Regions from separate parts of the Homo sapiens genome. Here regions 1, 2 and 3 are each linked to region 4. The links come from fine-mapping of genetic effects on plasma protein levels. A gene starts in region 4. Each other region holds a variant in brackets. All regions are shown on one strand. Distances are from middle to middle.

Evidence for each region. PIP is the chance, under the fine-mapping model, that this variant and not a neighbour inherited with it causes the effect. Protein levels are from antibody-based Olink assays in UK Biobank. Linkage for the fine-mapping came from a reference panel and not from the study's own genotypes, which makes the PIPs less certain.
Region 1: its variant is fine-mapped to the plasma level of the CHIT1 protein (UK Biobank, PIP above 0.99).
Region 2: its variant is fine-mapped to the plasma level of the CHIT1 protein (UK Biobank, PIP above 0.99).
Region 3: its variant is fine-mapped to the plasma level of the CHIT1 protein (UK Biobank, PIP above 0.99).

What each region holds. Positions count from the first base shown.
Region 1 is chr1:203,187,990-203,190,673 of GRCh38, reverse strand. No RefSeq gene overlaps it. Among named protein-coding and RNA genes, the nearest start is that of CHI3L1, 2.6 kb to the right of the region's middle. The variant C/T (reference allele first, on the strand shown) is at 1,488.
Region 2 is chr1:203,214,114-203,216,762 of GRCh38, reverse strand. CHIT1 (chitinase 1) reads left to right here. Exons shown (of 11, transcript NM_003465.3): 11 at 1-684. Among named protein-coding and RNA genes, the nearest start is that of CHIT1, 14 kb to the left of the region's middle. RefSeq lists enhancers at 1-674, 675-1,431. The variant A/G (reference allele first, on the strand shown) is at 1,125.
Region 3 is chr1:203,210,134-203,212,817 of GRCh38, reverse strand. No RefSeq gene overlaps it. Among named protein-coding and RNA genes, the nearest start is that of CHIT1, 18 kb to the left of the region's middle. The variant G/A (reference allele first, on the strand shown) is at 1,329.
Region 4 is chr1:203,228,288-203,230,971 of GRCh38, reverse strand. CHIT1 (chitinase 1) reads left to right here and starts at 1,299. Exons shown (of 11, transcript NM_003465.3): 1 at 1,299-1,360; 2 at 2,410-2,439. The coding sequence starts at 1,336.

The sequences.
Region 1 (2,684 bases), 40 kb after region 4:
TGGTTTAAGACACCAAAATAATAAGCCTTGGCTATTTCCCATAAATTTGGATTCCCAGCTGGGTGTGGTTGCACACGCCATTGATCCCAACACTTTGGGAGGCTGAGGCAGGAGGATGGCTTGAGCCCAGAAGGTCGAAGCTGCAGTGAGCCCAGATCACGCCACTGCACTCCAGCCTGGGTGACAGAGTGAGACTCTGTCTCAAAAAGAAAAAAAATTCCCCGAAAAAAACAATTTCATCCCTGATTTTTGCTATGCTGATAAGTGAAGATGTGTTGTAAAAATGATGCTGATCTCCACCAAACGTGATAACCTTGGGTCATTTTTTTTTCCCCTTCAAATACTTGTTGCATTTTGCATTTGACGAGCCAGCCATTCTGAAATCTGACTCGCTTCCGCTTTTCACAAGCAACTGTTTTCTTCTCTAAGTGTTTCTGCCTCTGAGTCTTCGACAGCTTCTACTGTGCGCCAGCACCACCACCGAGCTGAGGATTTGGAGATGATTTGAATTCCTGCCTGGCAGAAGTCCACCCTCTGGAGGAAGAGACTACTTGTAAAAGAGAGAATTCTCCTCAAGCATTTGGTGGGGCATCAACACCACCTCTGTTTGCTCTGACACGCCATGCAAAATGAAGGAATCCTCAAAACCACTGTGCCCAAGGGGCCAGCCCAGGCTCCCAGGAGCTTGTTTTCTGAATGGTGGTAATGTCCACCCTCTGGCTCCTGATCCAGACTCATCTTGTGCCTCCCTCGAGCTCCCTCCTGCTAATTCCATGCCTCAACCACTCTTGAATTCTTCTGGTTCCTGAACATAACAACCTCTTCCTGCTCCAGGTTTTTGCACAATTTTTTTTGTGTGTAGGGGACGGTGGGCAAGGGGCAGACTAACACCTGCCCTTCCTTCGTAATACATTACTTGCTTTTCTTTGTTTAATGTCCATCTTCTTTGCCAGACTGTATGCTTCATGAGGACAGGGACTGCCTCTCTGTTCCCATTCACCTTTCTGTCTCTACTGTCTACCTCAGTGGAAGGCAACTACTCTAGTACACTTACTTAATAAACATTGGTTGAACACTATCAATGTACTGTGGGGCCTAGAAATGTTTGATTAGGGAAATTAAGTCAGGAAGCTTGTTTTGTGGTTTTATGGCACCTCCTGAGTCAGTTCTTCACAGGGTAACAAAAACTATTGAATGAGATGAAATTTTGAGAACATCAGGGTTTAAACTCATAAGAGTGTGAAGTTATGCACCATTTTGAGATCATTTGTTCATTTATTCAACGAGTACTTTACTGAGCATCTACTATGTCTCAAGCACTGGGGATAGATACAAAGGTGGATAAAATGACCCAGCCGTTGCCTTTACTGAGTTTATAGTCTAGTGAGAGAGGCAAACAAAACATCCACTGCCACACACAACATATAAAATTATAACTGAGTCAGGTGTTAAGGAGAGAGGTACAAAGTGCTCTGACAGCCCTATAG[C/T]GGGTTTTCTGTCACCTGGAGACTGCCTTTTCTGCAGACAAGGTGACTCCTGAGCTGCAATCTGAAGGATGAGGAAGAATAAAGCAGTCAAAGAAGAGCAGTGTTAGGCTGCAATTCTCCATCCGCAATTCTCCAACCGCAATTCTCCATGGGTTGCCTGCATTTCCTGCACAGCTTATGTGCAGAGGCACTGGCTTCTTTGTTCTAGGCAATCTTTTTAGTGATGTTTGTACAGCAAACAGCCTTGGAAGATAGAAATAGCGTCCCCCCTCCAGACCAAAAGGCAGATTTGTTTACTGTCCAGTAATAAAGATAATGTCTCCCTTATCTTGGGCTGGCCAAGGTGAGGAAGGCTTACTGCTCATCATGAAAGATTTGAGTTCCTTAAACTAGGGATTCCTCTGCTGTGATGTAACTCATTGCATTCATGGCATCTACCTGGGCTCCTCCAACACTGCCCTTGTGAGACCTGAGGGCTAAGGGGAACTGACCCTAACATGAAGTTCATGCTGCTTGCTGTACCATGGATAATAAAGTCCTTTGTCTCTGACCTAGGAGTCTCGTGTCTTCTGCCAACATCCACGAAACTGTAGTTATGTCATTAATTTGCAAGTAGCATAAAATCTCAGATCTTTCATCGTTATTTACAGGCAAGTGGATGTCATATATAAAGGCCCTGTGGCGGGAGTCAGTAGAGCAAATATAAGGATTTAAAAGAAGACATATAAGCATGAGTGGAATATAGGGAGGGTGGGGGTCATGGCCTGAGATAAGGCTGGGAGGTGGTGAGCCTATGAGACCCTTGGCCAATCCTGCTAACACAGGCCTGGGGGTATCTTGGCCATTTGTTGTTACAAAGCTGCCTTCAGGCAGAGCATGTGGAATTAATAAACTGAGCTTGAGGGAGCATAGGACAACAAGGCTTGGGCCAATCTAAGCCTATGAAATAATTTTTAACAAAGGGAGATAGTGAAAATAGGAGGTGTTTTCTTAACATCCTGTGCTCTGTGATGAAAAATTTTGCATCTGCATGCCACTTCATAATATCACTATTAGAAATTAGAAGTCCTCCTCTCAGTGCCCCAAATGAACCAGAAGAAGCTATCATTGACTGTCATTGCTGTCAATCATCTTGGGTACAAAAGGAGGCAGTCATCTTAAAAAGGAAAAGTGATGCCTCTTTAGTATTCACCGAGC
Region 2 (2,649 bases), 14 kb after region 4:
CAGGCTTTCTGCTCTCAGCCTTGCCTTCCTTTTTTCTGGGTCTCCTGGGCTGCCCCTTTCACTTGCAAAATAAATCTTTGGTTTGTGCCCCTCTTCCCAAAGATGTGGTGACTTAAGAGGCTCTCTAAGCACACTGTTGACTCCAAAACATCCGCAGGTCAGAGCCAGGTGGGAAGGTGGTCCGTGCAGGATGTGCCAGGCCCTGTGGCAGGTCTTGCCCCATGAGTCCATATGCCAGTGGGCAGTTTCCAGTACACAGGTGATGGCAGCCAGAGCGCGGCCCCAAGTGCAACACGTTCTTTGGTTATTGGCTCAGAAGCCTGGAAACAGGAGCTTCTGCGGACCTTCACGCACGTGTTATTCCCAAAATGCCACTAGATGGCAGCAGAGAAGAACTTTTCCCTGATTTAAGCGCTCTGCGAGCAGCCACTCAGCATTACACTAAGAATTCAGACCCCTGGTACTCAGGGGTCTTCGAGATAAATCCTGTTTGGGCCCTTTGCAGGCCCTATCTCACCTACTGCCCCCGTTCACCAGATGAAGAAGGAACAATGATTATTCTCACTTTATAGGCATTTAAACTGAAGACTGATTCTAACCAATTCTGAGTCCAGAACCAAGGCCTGAAATGGGCCAGAGAGCATGCACACGGTGTCCTGGTTAAATAAAGTCATCCCAACATTCCTGGCTGCTTTGGGCTGCACCTTGGTCATTCTGTTTGAAGAAAATCTGCACAAAGCCTAATGGTCCAGCCTGTTATTCACTCCAAGCTGGTTTCTGGTTGGGACTTGGGAAGGCAGCTGGGGACTGGGACAGGTGAGATGAGGGGGAGGCAGCTTGGCCCCCCATGTGAGTCAACCCAGCACCAGAGCGCAGGAACAGTGTCCCCGTCACTCCGGCAGCCTGCCTGTCCATGGGCATTTTGAAACCTGCTCTCCTCAGTCCAGAGCACAAGCTGCTTGAGCACGTGCTCCGCCCCCTGAGGTCTCAATTGAGGGATACACCAACCACATCCCAACGAGCTGTTAGGAGTGGAGTCCAGGTGCAGGGGTGACTTCTGGCGTGCTGCACTCCAGCTGTGTGACTTCAGGCAAAGAAGCAGAGCCTCAGTCCTCTGCTGTAGG[A/G]TGGAAGAAATGTGAGGAGTCAGTGAAGTCGTGCACGCCTGCCCTATGATCAGTGCTCATTCCCTCCCTCCCTCTTCCCTTCTCAGCCCTTTCTTCAACTTCTGTGAGCTGGGTTTGTCAAGGATTTAGCAAAAACTGTAGTCTCCTTTTAGCAGAATGCGCCCTCCTACAAGCATCCAAATAACCAAAGTCCTCCCTGAGTACGCAGTCTTACACCTGCACTACTGTTACCCTCAGGAAAGCATTAGCCACAGCCTCTCTCTGGTCTTCACATCCACCCTGCTCCTCTACAAACTCATGGCCACTCCCTCAGCTAGAACCAGCATCATCTCATATCTGGACCCACCTTCTATCTGGCCTCCCTGCTTCCTGCCCACCCCCTCTTCCAGTCAGCCACCACATCGCAACCAGTTTAATCTTTCTAAAATAGAGATCTAAGCCTGTCAGTTCCCCTGCTTAAAAACTAAGCAAGGGAAGTGACAGGCTTCCCCTGCCCAAAGGAGAAAGTCCCCACCCATCAGCACAGGGTTGAGACACTTTATCAGGCCCTCGTGTCTTCTCCGGTCACTTCTCCTGCCGTCCCCACCCCAGTTCAGTTGCTGGGTACCCCTGATGTCAGCATTAACCTCAACCATCATGCCAGCTCCTCATGTGGGACTCCCACAGCCCTCTGTCACCCGGCTAGCTCAGGCCCACGCCATTTTCTGAATGAATCCTGTCTAGGACAGAAACAATGAGAGTTCTCGAAAAGCTATTTGTGTTCAGATTATCTCTTTTTGTTTGTTTTTGTTTTGTTTTGTTTTTTGTTTGTTTGTTTGGTTTTTGTTTTTTGGGTTTTGGTTTTTTTCTTTTTTTTTGAGACAGAGTCTCGCTCTGTTGCCCAGGTTGGAGTGCAGTGGCGTGATCTCGGCTTACTACAACCTCCACCTCCTGGGCTCAAGCGATTCTCCTGCTTCAGCCTCCCGAGGAGCTGGGACTACAGGCACCTGCCACCACACCAGGCTAATTTTTGTATTTTTAGTAGAGACGGGGTTGCTGTTGTTTGCTTGAGACAAGGTCTCTCTCTGTCACCCAGGCTGGAGTGCAGAGGCACGATCACAGCTCACTGCAGCCTTGACCTCCTGGGCTCAGCTGATCCTCCCACCTCAGCCTCCCAGGTAGCTGGGACTACAGGTACACACCACCATGCCCTGCTAAATTTTGTATTTTATGTAGAGGCAGGGTTTTGTCATGTTACACAGGCTGGTCTCCAACTCCTGGGCTCAAGTGATCCTCCTGCCTTGGCCTCCCAAACTGTTGGGATTACAGGTGTAAGCCATTGTTCCCAGCCAGATTGTCTCCTTTGACTCCACCTTGGCCTTGAAGCCCCATGTGGCTGGAGTCTTCCTGCTGCTGCTGAGTTTCTCAGCACACACCAAGTGTCCATGCAGGCCTGGTGTCCAGCTGGACACAGCAGGGACAAGAGCCGGGGCTTTACTTTCCTGAGGCTAACATTCTGTTGGGGGAGGCAGACAGTGAACAAACG
Region 3 (2,684 bases), 18 kb after region 4:
TTAACCTGTGTCGTTTAATCCTCACGGTACCCCTGCAAAGGACGTGTCATTTTCTGTTTCCCTTGGGTTACACAAGCAGTATGTGGCAAAGCTGCAATTAATTAGCTGATTAATTAATTATTGAGACAGAGTCACTCTGTCACCCAGGCTGGAGTGCAGTGGTGCAATCTTGGCTCACTGCAGCCTCCGTCTCCTGGGTTCAAGTGATTCTCGTCCCTCAGCCTCCCAAGTAGCTGGGATTAAAGGCGCATGTCACCACACCCAGCTAAATTTTTTGGTATTTTTAGTAGAGATGGGGTTTCACTATGTTGGCCAGGCTGGTCTCGAACTCCTGACCTCAAGTGATCTGCCCACCTCAGCTTCCCAAAGTGCTGGGATTACAGGCGTGAGCCACCACGCCTGGCCTAAAACTGCAATTTAGATGCCAGTCTAGATGAGACCCAGAGCCCAGGTTTGCTTTCTAGAACACTGCTGTCTTTCCTCCCCCAGGTTAAAATCATATGTATTTCTTTTATCTCCTTACCCTGCTATTTGGTGTCTAGACCTCAGAGGTTATGAGTATTGGGCACTTCTTCTGTGTCCAGCCATACACTAATATTCAGGTCCATTTATCTCTGCTGTCAATCCCATGGGATCACAGGTGCAGAAACCACGGTGTCCAAGTCAAGCCGGCAGTGGAGTCAGGGCCTGACCCAGGCCCACCCATGTCTTTGGTTGCTCTCCCCAGTGCACCCTCCTTCATGCCTCAGCTCTTGTCCTCTACAATATCTGATTTTATGGTTTACCTAAGTATGAAATCTTAATGATGCTTAAAACAATAAGCATTGCCTGAGCACTTGCCATGTGGCAGGAGCTGTGCTAGGGCCTAAGGGAAATGCAGAAATGAACCCTGCCCTCATGGTGTTTCCAGCTGGTGGGACTGTTGGTGGGGGGTCTCCAGGATCAGCTTAGCACCAAGGGTCAAAAGATCAACCCAGTTGGTGCAGTGGCTCACGCCTGTAATCCCAGCACTTTGGGAGGCTGAGGCGGGCAGATCACGAGGTCAGGAGTTCAAGATCAGCCTTACCAACATGGTGAAACCTTGTCTCTACTAAAAACACAAAAATTAGCTGGGCATGGTGGCAGGCACCTGTAATCCCAGCTACTCAGGAAGCTGAGGCAGGAGAATCGCTTGAAACCGGGAGGCGGAGGTTGCAGTGAGCCGAGACTGCACCACTGCACGCTCCAGCCTGGGTGATAGAGTGAGACTCCATCTCAAAAACAAAACAAAACAAAACAAAAAATCAACCCAGAGAGAAGGTACAGGTACTTCATGACTGATGCTGTTT[G/A]GAGCTGCAGGCTCATGGGGATAATAAAAAACAGGCCAAGCCTGGCTTTATCCTTGTTTTTTAAAAATTCTCTGCATACAAGCCATTCTTATTGCCTCCACCTAGGGTGAACTTCTTGCTCTCATTGCCCAAGACAATCTGACATATGAAGTTTGAGCATCTACTGCAAAGCAAATACCACTTTTTATAACAAGACTTTCTCTCTGTTCCCACCAGACTGCCCTGTCAGCCCCACACACCTTAATTATAAACTAGGTCATGTAAGCTTGCATGGCCTTTGAAGACAGGCACAAATACTGCTTGAACTGTTACAGTGTGTTTGACATTGAGCAATACAGTTTGAAAGGAATTTGGGGCTATTTACTTTTTGGTGGCTTAACCCACTAATGTCTGGCCACCTTCCTTAACAGTGATGACCACTCTTCACCCATAAAGAAGAGGCCCCTGTATTCTTCTCTCTCATAGCATTCATTGTTACATCTGACACACCTGCTGGAACCCCAGACAAATTTGGCTCCCCCCTTGGCTGGTCAGATCGGGGACCAAACTGTCCATCACACCCTACCTGGAGCAGTGAGAGCTGAAACTCTTTATCATTTTAATTTTGTCTCCATTGTAAAATATACCACATTATACCAAATAGTGTTCAAAACATATATGTTCAGGAACTCTTATGAATCCCTCACCCAGGTAAGGAAACAACATTAGCAGCCTCTGATGAACAGTGACTGATGTGCCCCTCCCTAATCCCATAGCCCTCTAACTAGATTTTGGTTATTCCTTTTCTTGTTTTTCTTGTAGTTTTACCAGCTAGGTGTGCATTTTTAAATAAAATTGTTTAGTTTGCACTAGTTTTGAAACTTACATAAATGGAATCACACTGTATGGTATCTTCTGTGGCCCAATGCTCCACATGACTGTAACTCATTTTCACTACTGTATAGTATTCCATCATAAGAGTATGCCATGACTTACATATTTCACTGTCAACAGGCATTTGGGTTGTTTCTAGATTGTGGCCAATGTGGACAATATTGCTATAAACACTCTTGAGGATGTCTCCTAGTGCATATGTGTAGAATATGCCTAGGAGTAGAATTAATGGGATGTGAATTATGTGCTTGTTCAATTTTACCAGGTGCAGGCAACGTGTTTTCCCAAAGCGGTTGTGTAACTTTTCCCTCCCGTCAGCAGAATTCTCTTGTATCCCATCCTCACCATTACCATATCATACTTTATACCAGTTTGAGAGATGTAAAATGGTATCCCGTTAGAGTTTCAACTTGCATTGTCCTAATTACTCATTATAGTTTCAGCATCTTTTCCTATACCTATAAGCAATATGTGTTTGTCTTT
Region 4 (2,684 bases):
ACTTCACCTGGAATCTCAGAAGGTGACTGTATTTGTAATAGGGGTCTTTGCAAATGTAATGAAGGTAAAGATCTCAAGATGAGATCATCTTGGATTAGAATGTCCTTCTCAGAGACAGAAAGGAGGGGACATACAGAGACACAGCGAGGAAGGGCGTGTAAAAATGGAGGCAGGCAGAGGCTGGAACGATGCCGTTGCATGCCCAGGAATGCCACAGGCCATCCGAAGCTGGAAGCTGCTGGGAAGTATTCGCCCCTGGAGCCTTCGGAGGAAGCATGGCCCTGCCAACTCCTTGTTTCCAGGCTTCTGACCTCCAGAACTGTGAAAGAATAAACTTCTGTTGTTTCAAATCACCTGTTTGGTGGCCATTTGTTACAGAAGCTCTGGGAAACCGACACAAATGTCCACCATTCTTCTGTTTTTTTTTTTTTGTTTTTTTTTTTTTGATGGAGTTTCACTCTTGTTGCCCAGGCTGGAGTGCAGTGGCGCGATCTCGGCTCACCACAACCTCCGCCTCCTGGGTTCAAGCAATTCTCCTGCCTCAGCCTCCCGAGTAACTGGGATTACAGGCATGTGCCACCATGCCAGGCTAATTTTGTATTTTTAGTAAAGATGGGGTTTCTCCATGTTGGTTAGGCTGGTCTCGAACTCCTGATCTCAGGTGATCTACCTGCCTCGGCCTCTCAAAGTGCTGGAATTACATGTGTAAGCCACCATGCCTGGCCCAAATGTCCACCATTATTATTCTTCATAAGAAACATAGGCATTTCAAGCCATTACCAAACTTATAGTCACTATTTATCATTATCTATTTTTCTCCATCAATGGATATGCAACTATTACTATCATGAAAAGTAAATTATATTTGCAACCCCATTATCTTCTAGATGGAGAAACAGTTTGAGAGAGGGCAGTGGAGAAGCAAGAGAGCTGGTCTGGAACCCAGCTGCCTGACTCGTGAGTCATTTCTCTTCCTCCAAAGCCCTATTAAGTCTGGGGCTGCTTATGGTCCTCACCAACTACACAAAGAAAGTCAGGGTCATGCTCATCCATCAGGAGGTTCAGGGCCACTTCCCGCTTTCCTCTGTTTGGCAACACTAAGAGTCACCCTCTGATTGTTCCAGAAAAGCAAGAATTGCTAAAGGCCATTGTGTCAAGTTTGCCCAATTCATGCTGCTTGACATCTTACCCCTCCCCACCCTGCTCCCATCCCCCCCACCCAGTGCCCCTGATTGCAACACTCCTGGCTGGGGTGGGACAGGGTGGCCAGATAAAAGCAGAGCAGGACCTGGAAAGCTGGTTTGTATGGGCTGCAGCCTGCCGCTGAGCTGCATCATGGTGCGGTCTGTGGCCTGGGCAGGTGAGCCGTCGGATAGTGGGCTGGGTCTCGGGAGCTGTGGGGAGGTGGGGATGTGGATGTTCAGGGACCACTTGCTACCATTTGCAAGGAAGCAGGAGGACTCAGGAGAACTTCAGAGGGTCATTTTATCCCTCTCCATGCCTCCTGGCTTGCAGTCCCTTGATTACCTTTCCTGTGGGCTCCCCCTTAGGCTCTTTCAGCCCAAGAGACTTCATGTTGCAAGGGAAGGCTTTTCTCAACAGGCTGAAGATGACTTGACTTTCCTCTCTCTGTCCTGAAAGCCCAGAGTCAATGAGGCCCCTGCACTGGGTCTTTGTGTCTTTCCCATGTTCTTAGGTCCCTCCTGTTGGCCTTATCCAAGAAGCGCCCACTGCCAAGAACCTCTTCTCCAACCTCATATTGTCTGTCCTGCAAGAGGGCAGCCTGGGGCCAAGATCCTGGGCATCCTTGCAAATTTTCATGGAGGTTCTATTAGGTTGACAGAGAAGTCCAAGGTCACCAGGTGAAAGAGATCTCTTCGAAGGAGTCCTGTCAGACCCTAGGTCTCCAAGGCTGTGGTTGCCTACCACAGCCAGGTAGCGGAAAGGCAACAGGAAGCCATAAACGATGGGAGCAGAGGCACAGGCCCTCCCCAGGAGATGAACTCTCTCCATGCAGCCCTTCCAGATTGATTCTTTCTAGCCCCAAAACAGGCTTGTTTCTTGTTCCGAAAGAGAAACTATCTCTCTAAATAACTCACAAGTCAGCAGTTTTTCCACAATCTTCCTGAATCCACACTGCCCTTTACTGAGGTATAGAGAGGGGGCAGCCTCAGCCCATGGAACTTTCCATCAGCTTCTAGGACCAACCCAGGCCAGGAAGAGACCCCCGTGGTCTGGTCTGCATGAAGGGATGGGCACAGTGCCCTCCTGGGTCCCTTCTGAAAGGAGAAAGCTTGATTTGTATGAAATCAGCCCTCCCTGACCACCTCCTGTGCTTCCGTAAGCTGTGGGGCCTGGGAAGGTGAGAATGGCAGCATAACCCTGGCCTTCTCTCTTGTGTTGCTCCAGGTTTCATGGTCCTGCTGATGATCCCATGGGGTAAGTAGCCTCTTTCTTGGCTGCCTCAGCCCCTTCCCTGGGCTCTGCTTAATGTCCCAAAACACCTTCCCTGCCAGACCTCCCCAAGAGCTCCAGATTTCAGTGGGGACTCTCTTCCAAAGCTCAGACCCCTGCAAATGTCCCCATCTGCTACCAGCCCTCCCAGGAAGGCTCTTGCCTCCTTATCCATTAGCTGAGCTCCTGCACATCTGTGGGGCCAGCTTGCGCATCAGCCTCTTTCAGGG